Linked DNA regions of Homo sapiens. The protein of the gene in region 1 interacts with the protein of each later gene in a biochemical or structural test. Each region holds a gene or a part of one and is shown on either strand. Other genes may lie near its edges.

Region 1 (7,026 bases):
AAAACCCTACAAACTAGAAAAACATTAAAATAATGCTGTTTCAAAAGGCCCAGTTATTTAAGACTGTCATAAGCATCAACAGGTAAGTCTGTGCCAAAGGCTTACAATCTTGTTATGTATTATGCCACAGCATCATTTGTTTCTCCAGAACCAATTACTAGTAAGTCACAACCCCTTCCTTCCTTTCCTAACTTATTGACTCCAGACATCTAATGGACCATGTTACTCACCATGCTGTTTCATTCAACAAAATCCAGTTCCTCATACCCAGAATAGTACTCTGTCAAAAGTTAGTTTTGATATTAAAATTGTAATCAAAGTACTGTCATAAATTTAAGTTAGAAATTCTTTACCATTAGCCATAAGGAACTTGGGAATCAAGTCAACATTCCAGTCTCTTCCTCTCCCCATTGACTCGGGTGGTGATCCTGGTATTTTAAATCTTTTGTATAACTAAAAGCAAGGAAAAACATAGCCATAATGTTAACAAAATTTAATTTTTTATTACAATATGTACATATTTTTTATTAAGTGCTTTTAGTATAACTAAACACCACCATGCTAGTAAAGTATAAGGGCATTTCATCTTTTATCAGATAAAATTTTTAGCAAGGTCCAATATATATGTAAATTAATTACTAAACTCATAAATGTTAAAATTAACAAATATGGCAGAAGTAAGGTTTTTCACTAGCAGAAAAGAAAGAATATAAAACAAGGCCAGACGCAATGGCTCATGCCTGTAATCCCAGCACTTTGTAATCCATGAGGCGGGTGGATCCCTTGAGGTCAGGAGTTTGAGACCAGCCTGACCAACATAGTGAAACCCCGTCTCTACTAAAAATACAAAAATTGGCCAAGCATGGTGGCTCATGCCTGTAATCCCAAACACTTTGGGAGGCCGAGGCGGGTGGATCAGGAGGTCAGGAGTACAAGAAAAGCCAGGCCAAGATGGTGAAACCCCATCTCTACTGAAAATACAAAAATTAGCCAGGTATGGTGGCAGATGCCTGTAATCCCAGCTACTCGGGAGGCTGAGGCAGGAGAATCGTTTCAACATGCGAGGCAGAGGTTGCAGTGAGCCGAGATAGCGTGACTGCACTCCAGCCTAGTGACAGAGTGAGACTCCATCTCAAAAAAAAAAAAAAAAAAAAAAAAATTAGCGGGGTGTGGTGTGTGCCTGTAAGCCCAGCTACTCGAGAGGCTGAGGCAGGAGAATCACATGAATCTGGGAGGTGGAGAATCACATGAATCTGGGAGGTGGAGGTTGCAGTGAGCTGGGATGGCACCACTGTACTCCAGCCTGAGTGACAAAGCAAGACTCCATCTCAAGAAATAAATAAATAAAACAAGATTATTTGTCAATGACACTGTATAGTTCTCTATACGGACTGTATATGCAGAACTAGGGTGTCACTGACAAATAGCAATCATCTAAATTCATTCTCTCCCAAATAAAAAGCTATCAAAGGCTTAATTTTGCTTTTGTATTATGTAAGGAATTCAAAATAAACCTTAGATTCTTCCTAATCAGAAAAGATAATTAAAATTAGTTCTAGTTCATTTATAATTTTTGAGCTTTACTGAGGTATAACTGATACATAAAGAACTGCCTACTTCCTGCATACATTTTGGTGAGTCTAGACACAAGGTACACCCATAACATCACCATAAGGTACCAATCATATCCATCACCTCCAAAATTGTCCTTTTGTTCTTTTATGATGTTTTGTGGTAAGAATACTCAAATTAATTTATAATTCACATGAATTGAAATGAAGCTCAGATTTCAAAAAGCTTATAAAGTTAGAGAACAGTCACTTGAGCTCATGAATCCTACTGCTAAGGTGGAAAAGAATAAGCAAAATTAGTAAGTATTTATTCAATAAAAATTCTGGCTGGGTGCGGTGGCTCATGCCTGTAATTCCAGCACTTTGTGAGGCCAAGGCAGGCAGATCACCTGAGACCAGGAGATCGAGACCAGCCTGATCAACATGGTGAAACCCCACCTCTACCAGAAATACAAAAAATTAGCCAGACGTGATGATGTACGCCTGTAATTCCAGCTACTCGGGAGGCTGAGGCACGAGAATCGTTTGAGCCTAGGAGGTGGAGGTTGCACTGAGCTAAGATCGTGCCACTGCACTGCAGCCTGGGTGACAGAGAAAGACTCCATCTCAAAAAAAAAAAAAAGAAAAAATTCATGACTCCCTCAATACATCTGGGGAGAAAAAAAAGAAAAGAAATCTTACTCATTGTATTGAAGATCAGCTAAGAAATATACTAGGCCAGGCACAGAGGCTCACACCTGTAACCGCAGCACTTTGGAAGGCCAAGGCAGGCAGATCATTTGAGGAGTTCGAGACCAGCATGGCCAACAAGAAGAAATCCCCATCTCTACTAAAAATACAAAAAATTAGCCAGGCATGGTGGTCCACACCTGTAATCCCAGCTACTCAGAAGGCTGAGCATGAAAATCACTTGAACCCAAGAGATGGAGGTTGCAGTGAGCCGAGACTGCACCACTACACATCAGCTTGGACAACAGAGCAAGACTGTCTCAAAAAAATAAAAATAAAAATAAAATAAAACAAAATTAAGAAAAGAAAAAAATTGTGAGGAGATTTGTAGATTAAGAAAATAAAGAGGTGCCCAGGCATGGTGGCTCTCACCTATAATCCCAACACTTTGGGAAACCAAGGTAGGAGGATCACTTGAGGCCAGGAGTTTGAGACCAGCCTGGGCAACACAGAGAGACCCCATCTCTACAAAAAATAAAATAAGCCAGGCAGGTGGTATGCATCTTTAGCCCCGCTACTTAGGAGGCTGATACAGGAGGATCGTTTGAGCCCAGGAGTTCAAGGCTACAGCAAGCTACGATCGCACTGCTGCACTTCAGCCTGGGCAACAGGGCAAGGCCCTGTCTCTTAAAAACAAACAACAACAACAAAGAATAAAGCGCTCGGGCGTGGTGGCTCATGCCTGTAATCCCAGCAGTTTGGGAGGCCAAGGCAGACAGATCACATGAGGTCAGGGGTTCCAGACCAGCCTGGCCATCATGGTGGAACCCCGTCTCTACTAAAAATACAAAAATTAGCCAGGCATGGTGGTGCACGCCTTTAATCCCAGCTACTTGGGAGGCTGAGGCAGAAGAATCACCTGAACCCAGAAGGTGGAAGCCATAGGGAGGCGAGACTGTGCCACTGCACTCCAGCCTGGGCGGCAGAGCAAGATTCTGTCTCCAGAAAAATAAATAAGAGAATAAAGAGAAAATTATACCAAATACAAACAGCTACGTAAGAGATTACTGGGACCACTGGGAAATTTGAATATGGTTCTGGATATGATATAATGGTATTATGCTTATGCAGGAGAATGTTATTCTTAGCAGATGAATGCTGAAATATTTTGCTCAAGCCTCATGATGTCTTATCACTTTCAATGGATCAAAACCAGTAACAAAAAAAGAGACATGAAAAAAATACAGCAAACTTTAACTGCTGAACTCTGATGGAAGATTTTTTTATACATCGTATTATTCTTTAAACTTTTCAGTATTACTGAATATAGAAAAAAATCCTTTTTGGTAAGTATTGTCTAATAAGTCACTGATTAAAGTCATTGATGATATCTATCTCCCATAAGACACAGTACACATCATATCCATATACGTAGGTGTTCAACAAACCTCACGCAGAAAAACAATCAATATATTAAAACACACTGTGGAAATGCTATGTGTCCACGTTCAAAAAAAGTAGGAAACAAGGCAGTATAGCAAAAGGAACTAAGCTTTGTAGTCATGTAACTTGGGTTTACAACCCATCTCAGATTTTAACCCCACAGAGACTATGTTAAATGGAGATTAAAAAAAAAATCTTTGAGGGACTGAGAAAATAAATAAAGCCATGAGGAAAGCACTGGACTTGCGCTGGCACATCAGACGATCCTCTACCCTCCCTTCCTAGACTATTCTCTGTTAATGCTAAGAGATAACTGCTCCACATAGCAACAAAAGTCAAAATGTAAATTTCTATGAGCTTCAAACCAGAAGCTCCTGAAAAACAGTGCTCCAGATATTCCATTTAACAAAACAAAATTAAGACCATCTCTAAGGAATAAGGTAGAGATTCACAAGTGAAATACTCACAAAGTGTGAGAGGCGTATGAAATTTGACTAACACTTACATCTTCCAATGGTGTTATAGATGCACTCTCTCCTCCGTAGTAAGGGTTTCGATCCATATGAAGAACTTTCTTGCCATTCACTGACATTATACCTGACAGGATACATTCCTATAGAAAAAGCATAGTACCTTGAAAAGAAAGTTCTACAGCATATTTAAAACAGATCATTTTTTTCAAGCCTGCCATTACACATTCTCTTAGTAATTACACTTATATTCATGCAACATGACATAATTTATGAAGAAAGCCCTTAAGAAACCAGGGGTCCAGGTGTGGTCTGTGGGCTCCTATGCATCCCAAGATTAAAACTGTTTCATAATAACACTAAGACATTAGTCACCTTTTAATTTTTTTTTTTTATTTATTTTTTGAGATAGAGTTTCACTCTTCTTGCCCAGGCAGGAGTGCAATGGCGCAATCTCAGCTCATTGCAACCTCTACCTCCAAGGATTCAAGCAGTTCTCCTGCCTCAGCCTCTTGAGTAAGTGGGATTACAGGTGCCCGCCACCACACCCGGCTAATTTTTTGTATTTTTAGCAGAGACAGGGTTTCACCATGTTGGCCAGGCTGGTCTTGAACTCCTGACCTCAGGTGATCCTCCCGCCTCAGCCTCCCAAAGTGCTGGGATTACAGGCGTAAGCCATCGTGCCCAGCCTAGTCACCTTTTCAGTGTTGACACTTCCACTGATGATGTAAAATCAATGGTGGATAAAACAAATTAAGACAGGGCTCTAAACTATACTAGTCATCATTACAGTCTTCATCGCCAGGCATTCATTTAAGGATGTCCTTGATAGGGTGGGCACAGTGGCTCACGCCTGTAATCCCCAGCACTTTGGGAAGCCAGGGGAGGTGGATCACCTGAGGTCAGAAGAGCAAGACCAGCCTCACCAACATGGAGAAACCACATCTCTAGTAAAAATACAAAATTAGCCGGGCATGGTGGCACATGCCTGTAATCCTAGCTATTCAAGAGGCCAAGGCAGGTGAATTGCTTGAACCTGGGAGGCAGAGGTTGTGGTGAACCAAGATCACACCACTGCACTCCAGCCTGGGCAACAAGAGCTAAACTCCATCTCAAGAACAAAAAAAAGGATGTCCTTGATAAAAGCATTAAAAAGTAACTTTATTGGCCAGGCATGGTGGCTCACACCTGCAATCCCAGCACTTCGGGAGGCCGAGGTGGGTGTAATGCTTGAACCCAGGAATTTCAGACCAGCCTGGGCAATACGGTGAAACCCTGTCTCTACTAAATACACAAAAATTAGCAGGGCATGGTGGTGCATGCCTGTAATTCCAGCAACTCAGGAGGCTGAGGCAGAACTGCTTGAACCCAGGAGGCAGAGGCTGCTGTGAGCTGAGACCACGCCACTGCACTCCAGCCTGGGTGACAGAGCAAGACTGAGTAGCAAAAAGAATTAATAAAGTTATTTAATAAACATATACCCTTCAATAGTCATCTTTTAAACATTGTGTGTGAAAAAATGGGAAGAATACAGACAGCACTTCAGCTCAGGGAAAACCTGTGCCACTGATCTGTAAGCTGAACTAGCCGCTTTTTTTTATGAATAATCATTTTTATTTGAAAGAACTGACCAACAAACTATGATTATTCAGATTTAGGTATTTGACATTTTCTCAAAGAAAACCTAAAGGAAAATAACTGACACGTGCTGCCAATAAGTCAAATTTTAAATGAAAATTAGAATTACCGAAAACTTGGCCGGGCACAGCTGCTCACACCTGTAATCCAAGCACTTTGAGAGGCCGAGGCGGGTGGATCACAAGGTCAGGAGATTGAGACCATCCTGGCCAACATGGTGAAACCCCATCTCTACTAAAAATACAAAACTTAGCTGGGCATGGTGGCGCATGCCTGTAATCCCAGCTACTCGGGAGGCTGAGGCAGGAGAATCGCTTGAACCAGGGAGTTGGAGGCTGCAGTGAGCCGAGATCGCGCCACTGCACTCCAGCCTGGTGTCAGAGCAAGACTCCATCTCAAAAAAAAAAAAAGAATTATGGAAAACTTACAACTACCACCATGGGCACACGTCAGGTTCCCCAATACATGAAGAACTTTTCTAACATTATCAGTGACAATACTAACAAATATGATGTTTTGATAATGTAAAATGAAACATGTCAACATTAAGACCCACTTTACTCAGAGTAAACCTTGTTTTCCAAATAACGGGTGAATGAAATTACAAAATCACACAGGAGGAAAAAAGAGGAATTCAAAGTGCAAGCTAGATCAGTGGGTGTTAATATATCAGAATATAAAACATTCATTAATGTGGCTTCAGATTTCATACTGCTATCTCTTAAAAACTACCACTTGTGCTTTTGTGTAAACCAAAGAATATCTACAATAACCTGAAAGGCTATATTTAAATTACTCCTCCCTTTTCCAATTACATGTCTGTGTGAGACCTGTTTTCATATACTTCAGCCTAGACAATATATCGCAACAGAACTGAACACAGAAGCATGTATGTGAATTCAGTTTTATTAAGCCAGACATTAAAGGATTTGCAGAAAACGTGAAATATTGATAGTCTTCTCACAATTTTGTTTTAGAAAATATACTCAGGCAGATGGCTTAAGCCCAGGAGTTGGATGGAGACCAGTCTGGGCAACAGGGCAAAACCCTATCTCTGCAAAAAATACAAAAATTAGCTGGGTGTGGTGGTGAGCACCTGTAGTCCCTGCTACTCAAGAGGCTGAGAGGTGGGAGGATTACTTGAACCCATGAGGGCAAAGGTGCAGTGAGCCGTGATAAGGCCACTGCACTTCAGCCTGGGTGACAAAGTGAGATCCTATCTCAATAACAAAAAA
Region 2 (7,026 bases), on another chromosome or scaffold:
GTTCGTCTAAAGACTACAAAAAAGTTACAATTATTGTAAGTAAATAAGTCAGTAATAATCACCACATGGAGAACAACTGTTAGCATTTCTGTGTATGGTGTGCTTGAGCAGATGAGGAAACAGTTTTAAGTCTGCCGTTAGGCACACAAACCTGGGAGACTGAAAATATTTGTTGTCCAAAATTACCATTAATTAAATGAAAAATGCATCGTTTAACAGAAAACTTCAAATAATACTAAATTTTAGGATCTGTTCTAAAAGTTTCCCATTTATTAATAACATAATTTTTCTCAAAACAATGTTAATCCAAGTAGCCTGGCTACAGAACTTGAACTCGAGTCATCTCTCAGGTTGCCTGGGTTTGAAACTCGGCTCTGTCACTTCTGTGACAATAACTGTGTGACCTCAATTAAGCTTCTTAACATCTCTGTGCTTGTTTCCTCATTTATAAGGATTGTAATAATATCTCATTTTATAGGATTGTTGAGAAGTTAAGTACTTAAAGCACTGCCTGGCACAAACTTGAAGCTTTGAGGTTAGCCTTTAAAAAAAAAAGTAATTTTGGACTCACATCCTATACCTTTGAATTTCCTTTAAAAGATAGTGACATAATCTAAAGGGCATTGAAGGTCTAGTAGAGTTTAAGATAATCATGCTATAGGCAATATTTAAAGTGATTAATAGTAAATTTGCTTTACTGATTTGTATATTTAATTCATAATTGTTTCTTTACAGGTTTCTTTACCTCCAGAAAGAAGAATATTGGCCCCTTGAATTCTGGAAGTTCATTGAAGAGTCTGAAATTAGGGACTTATTTCAAATTTGGACATGGCTAGTCGAGGCGCAACAAGACCCAACGGGCCAAATACGGGAAATAAAATATGCCAGTTCAAACTAGTACTTCTGGGAGAGTCCGCTGTTGGCAAATCAAGCCTAGTGCTTCGTTTTGTGAAAGGCCAATTTCATGAATTTCAAGAGAGTACCATTGGGGGTGAGATTTTCTTTTTTCCCTGCTTCATTTAATCGAATCATACATTGACAGAAAATATTTTGATGTTCCAATTGTGTGATTATGAATAGCTAAATAAGTCATAGAGTGAAGAAAAGAGCTGTTCAGCTTACCTTAGCTTTAAAACTTGCCTTTATCTTTGTTAAAATGATGTGTTTTTATATTTGATTGTTTGGTTAATCCCTTGTGGTTATATTGTAGCTAAAATACAGATAAAAAACATGAGTAGAATCAGTGTCTCAAGTAATAACATTTGACCTGATACCTATTTCTAGCTAACAACTAGAAGCTTCTTCAAATTAATACAGTACATGTTTGTGCTCAATTATATTGGTTTAAAATGAATAGTAAAAAAGGTAACCTTAAATTCTGATCTATATAACTGAAGTATTTGCAAATAATTATACTTACTTGTAAAATTAAATGTAATTAAATACTGCTAGATGTACTTTTTTTTGGTATTTAAGAGATGGGATCTTGCTGTCGCCTAGGCTGGAGTGCAGTGTCCGGATCATAGCTCACTGCAGACTGCAGCCTGAAACTCTAGGCTCAAATGATCTTCTTGCCTTAGCCTCCCACCAAGTAGTTGGACCTAAGGGTGCATGCCACCATGCCAGGCAAGTTTTTTTTTTTTTTTTTTAAGAGTCAGAGTCTCGCTGTGTTTCCAGGTTGGTCTTGAACTCCTGGCCTCAAGTGAGCCTCCAGCCTCAACCTCCCAGGTAGCTGTGATTACAGGTGCTCCCTGCTGAGATGCATATGTAAGAATGCTCCTAAGCTGAGGGAAGAGAAAAAGTGATTAATGGAAAGGGACATAACAGGAAAATGGAACCTGAAGAAAAAGATGAAAGAAGAAGGGAAAGAGTAGGCACTGACAAGGGTGGTTATGGTGGGACAGAGATGAGGGGAAGGTAAGATGCAGGGTGAAAAGGAGACAACAAACAGTACAGTATTGTCAAGAGAGGACGTGAAATGGGAAAATTGAATTTTAGCTGGACATGGTGGTGCATTCCTGTAGTCCCAGGTATTTGGAGGCTGAGGCAGGATTATTTTAGCTTGGGAGTTCAAGTCTAGCCTGGGCAACATAATGAGAACCCATCTCTTAAAAAAAATTGACTTTAATCAAAGAAACCTATAATTATATAGCAGTGGGACAAGATAGCCTCTTTTGGGCCTCTGTTTCATCTGTGAAATGATGCTTTTCAATTAGATGATGTGTGGCAAGAGCCACACGGTTTGAGATTCACAATATTTTGCAAGTGATATATAATTAAGCAATGCTGTTTTCTAAGGTATTCATGTATATATTTTAACCCCATCCTGTAAAATTAAAGTCAAACTTTGGAAATAAGACAGGTAGATACCAACTGGCATGTGGCAACTTCTTGGAATCTGTCTTTCAGAAGCAAAACTTTATACTGTGCATTTAGTGAATGCTCTTCTGCAAATATACTTGAGAATGTTATTCATAATCTTAGACCCATTCTAGTAAGATAAGTTACAGAAGTCTACTACCTCCTGGCCTTTGTATATCTTGTTAAAATGTTATATTAGAATGTTTTATGTTTTTTCTAATGGCTGAGCATCAGAAAGCATCATGGAGCTTTTATTTTGAGTCAGAAGTCTTGGCATTTTAAAAAATGTTAATACACAATATATTAGACATCTTTGTGATTTTTTTTTTCCCTGAAAGTACATCCACGTGTGATTTTGTTGTTGTTGTTGTTATTGTTAATACATTATATCCAGTTTAATAATGAAATACTACTTCTCAAGAAGGCTTTGCTTCCTCCAGAAGTGATTTGGTCAAAGCTAACTGTCCCATCTAGTAGGAAAAGTTTAAAGACTGCTAGATCATGTCCACCCACTTATTTCACTGTTAATGGAAGCATTTCCCAAAGTATATGTGCATTCTGGGTTAAATAACCTGGGCCACGTAGGTTTGGGACTTACTATATGCTACTCTTCTCCTCTCTCTTTATTATTTTATTAAAACAATAAAAACTCTGAAGTACTGTAGTATAGGACTTAATTCCTGGGGAGCTTTGCAAGAGCTTAAGATTAGAATTTTTATCTTGTTTTGGATAATGCACTTCTAAGTTTATTTTTTCCTAATGATAGCTCAAGAAGGATGTTTAAAAGAAAAATGTAACCCCATATCCTGTGTATCATAAATATATCTCTGATATGTGTGTATCTCTATATAATCTCCATGTAACACCAGTTAGATTGTCTAGATTTCATTAATGAATTTTTCATAAAGATTTTCATTTCTATGTGTAGAGCTTCCTGTTTAAAAACAAAAAGGAATTTGCATCCAAATTTCTGTTAATCCTTTTTTTTTTTTTTTTTGGAGACAAGGTCTCTGTCGCCCAGGCTGGAGTGCAGTGGTGTAGCCCTGGCTCACTGCAACCTCCGCTTCCCAGGATCAAGCAATTCTCATGCCTCAGCCCCCCAAGTAGCTGGGACTACAGGCGCAAGCCACCACTCCTGGCCAATTTTTGTATTTTTAGTAGAGATGGGGTTTCACCATGTCGGTCGGGTTGGTCTTGAACTCCTGGCCTCAAGTGATCTGCCTACCTCGGGCTCTCCAAGTGCTGGGATTACAGGCATGAGCCACTGCCCCTGGCCCAACTTTCTGTTAATCTTTATTGGATACTTTTTCACTGTGCTGACCCCATGTGAATACTATTCAGGAGGTATGACAGTACCATTATGGTTATAGCTGTGGACACTATTCTTTTATGCTCTGTACTCATAGCTCTTCACCTTTAGGAACTAGAGTAGATGTAAAGCATTTAAGAATTTTAAGGTTTGAGCTATTTCATGATCAACCTGAAAGGGCCATAACTTGTAGGTAATACGTATTTTTGTTTTGACTGTCATGTGGTAGAAGTTACCTGAAAAATGAAGCCAACCAACTCTTTTGCATTTCAACTGTTGGTTTATTTTTTTTGAGACGGAATTTCACTACGTGGCCCAGGTTGGAGTGCAGTGGTGTGATCTAGGTTGACTGCAACCTCTACTTCCCAGGTTCAGGCAGTTCTCCTGCCTCAGCCTCCTGAGTAGCTGGGATTACAGGCCCACACCACCAATCCCAGTGAACTTTTGTATTTTTAGTAGAGACAGGGTTTTGCCATCTTGGCCAGGCTGGTCTCAGACTCCTGACCTCAAGTGATCCACCTGCCTCGGCCTCCCAAAGTGCTGGAATTATAGGCGTGAACCTCCACGCCTGGCCTCAACTGTTTAATTTTTCACTTTACTGTTTATATCTCCTAACATGAGTTATTGTTCTGAAGCACTCAAAATTTTAATCTCTATTTGATTGTGTTCGAAGGTGGATATCATATGTTACACTCTTGATTTGTGGATTCTGGATTCATTAAGAATATCAAGATTTCTTCTGTAATTTGTGTGGTTCTTCCTAAATACAATAACTTGATTTACGAATTCCTGTTGCGCTGTGTGCGGTGGCTTGCATCTGTAATCCCAGCACTTTGGGAAGCTGAGGTGGGCAGATCGCTTGAGTCCAGGAGTTTGAGACCAGCCTGGCCAACATAGCAAAACCCCGTCTTTACAAAAAATACGAAAATTAACCGGGCATGGTGGCACACACCTGTAGTCCCAGCTACTGAGAAGGCTGAAATGGGAGAATTGCTTGAACTGAAGAGGCGGAGGTTACAGTGAGCCGAGACTGCACCACCACACTCCAGCCTGGGTGACAGTGAGAACCCTGTCTCAAAAACAAAACAAAACAAAGAATCCCTGTTGCCTCACCATACTTCATGCATCCTACCCCTATAGCACTTCTGATGAAATTGCGTGCCGTAGATTTAGCAATTTAGAGAATTCTAGCTTGTTTGTATGGGTTTAAAGTTTGCATGACATTTATGTTTCTATTGTTGGTCTAAAGTTAGCCCAGAGATTAGCAGGGAGCAGTAGGCTCAGAGAGTTGTCTTCCTTCTTTACTTGGTACTGCATCTCTAGGCTTGGTAGCTCTTCAGTAAATACTCTCAAAAAATACTTATTTTTAAGAAGACATTTATGTGATATTTATAAACAAATTAATCCTCAGTGGTTAGAATATGCAGTGAAATAGCAAGCAGACAATCCTTTTTTTCTCTTCTGAGAAAAGTGCTTCATACCACAGTTACAATTTTGTATGCACTAATCAAAAAATGTGTTATAAACTCTAAAGTTTAGATGATGGAACTGTACATGAAAATAACATTCCTCTTGCTGGTTCTGTGATTTTTGTACATTAGCTTAGAACAGTGGTCCTCAAAGAGCGTTCCCACTTCCAGAAGTAGCTGCATTAACTAGGAACTTGTTAAAATGTAGAATCCCGTGTTGAATCAAAACATTTGGGTGGGACCAACAATCTAGGTTTTAATAAGTTTTCCAGATGATTCTAATGGCATGTTACGTTTGAGTAGTTGATTTTACATTGGTACTAACATTGATTCACCCATACATGGAATAATTGGGGGGTTTTTTTGAGGTGTGGTGTTTGTCAGATTTTTAAAAACATTGTTGACTGGGCGCGGTAGCTCATACCTGTAATCCCAACACTTTGGGAGGCTGAGGCGGGCGGATCACGAGGTCAGGAGTTCGAGACCAGCTTGCCAATGTGATGAAACCCTGTCTCTGCTAAAAATACAAAAATTAGCCAGGCATGGTGGCGTGCGCCTGTAGTCCCAGCTACTTGGGAGGCTGAGGCAGGAGATTCGCTTGAACCCAGGAGGCGGAGGAGGTTGTTGCAATGAGCCGAGATCATGCCATTGCACTCCAGCCTGGGTGTCTCAGCGAGACTCCGTCTTAAAAAAAAAATTGTTCATGCAACTAACCTAGTTTGAGAATTACATGTATTATGTACTGCTCACATTACATGTTATCTGTATCTCTTTATAGGAGAATGCCTTCCTGTTAGCCACCTGCCAGACATCTTTAGGAAAGTATGATCCCTCTGTCCAATCAAGAGTATTCTGCTTTTTCTCTACTTAGGGAGTACCCATAGTTTTCAGTCATCTGTACCACTGCTGCTCTCCTTTCTTGTCACAAATGATCAAGGCCTGATAATACACAAAATTAATTAAGAAATTTAGTGTAGGCCGGGCGCAGTGGCTCATGCCTGTAATCCCAGCACTTTGGGAGGGTGCCAGCACACTGGCAGATCACGAGGTCAGGAGTTCGAGACCAGCCTGGCCAACATGGTAAAAATACCAGAATTAGCTAGGCGTGGTGGTGGGTGCCTATAACCCCAGCTACTCAGGATGCTGAGGCAGGAGAAACATTTGAACCCAGGAAGCGGAGGTTGCAGTGAGCCGAGATCGCGCCATTGCACTCCAGCCTGGGCGACAGGGCGAGACTCCGTCTCAAAAAAAAGGAAATTTAGTGCAATTATTAACTCTTAAGTGAAGTGCTGTTTCTACTTACATATTTAACATCCATCTAAATTGGTTAGCATGGCCAACTAGTTGTTTTTAGTCTAAAACAACCTGTAACAGGAATAAAAGTTACTGTTAAAATGAAGAAAAACAAGGCTTATTTCAAAGTTATTATTAACATACTATTTTACCTAACAATTTATGGCCAAGTCATTCTAAAGAATAAACTATTGTGGTTAAGAGAGACTGTATCCAGATTGAAGTTTTTACCACAATGCCTGGCACAGTAAAAGGTTTATTAAATTATAGCTATTACAGTTACCATCACCACTGTTAACTTTTGGCTGAATCGTTTTGTCATTGTTGATATTTTTGTTGTTTGGTCATGACATACTATTATCTTGAGATGGTAGCTGTTACACCTAGTGCATAGCGTTTGATTTAGAAAATTTGAAGATTTGAAAAATTTTGTGTTTTTTTTCCTTTTTTTTTTTTTTTTTAAACAGCCTGCTCTGTTGCCCAGGCTGGTGTACAGTGGTGGCATCAAAGCTCACTGCAGCCTTGACGTGGCCTCAAGTGGTCCTCCCAGGTAGCTGGGACTGACTATAGGCATGCACCCCACACTTGGCTAAT

The links.
Region 2: the proteins of GDI2 (region 1) and RAB5A form a complex in vitro, tested with the Homo sapiens proteins (one study listed by BioGRID).

What each region holds. Positions count from the first base shown.
Region 1 is NC_000010.11:5,796,410-5,803,435, forward strand, and holds part of GDI2 (rab GDP dissociation inhibitor beta), read right to left. Parts: exon of another isoform or gene 6,682-7,026; intron 4,297-6,681; coding exon 4,189-4,296; intron 454-4,188; coding exon 354-453; intron 1-353. UniProt on the Homo sapiens protein: GDP-dissociation inhibitor preventing the GDP to GTP exchange of most Rab proteins. By keeping these small GTPases in their inactive GDP-bound form regulates intracellular membrane trafficking.
Region 2 is NC_000003.12:19,950,071-19,957,096, forward strand, and holds part of RAB5A (ras-related protein Rab-5A), read left to right. Parts: intron 1-735; 5' UTR 736-828; coding exon 829-991; intron 992-7,026. UniProt on the Homo sapiens protein: The small GTPases Rab are key regulators of intracellular membrane trafficking, from the formation of transport vesicles to their fusion with membranes.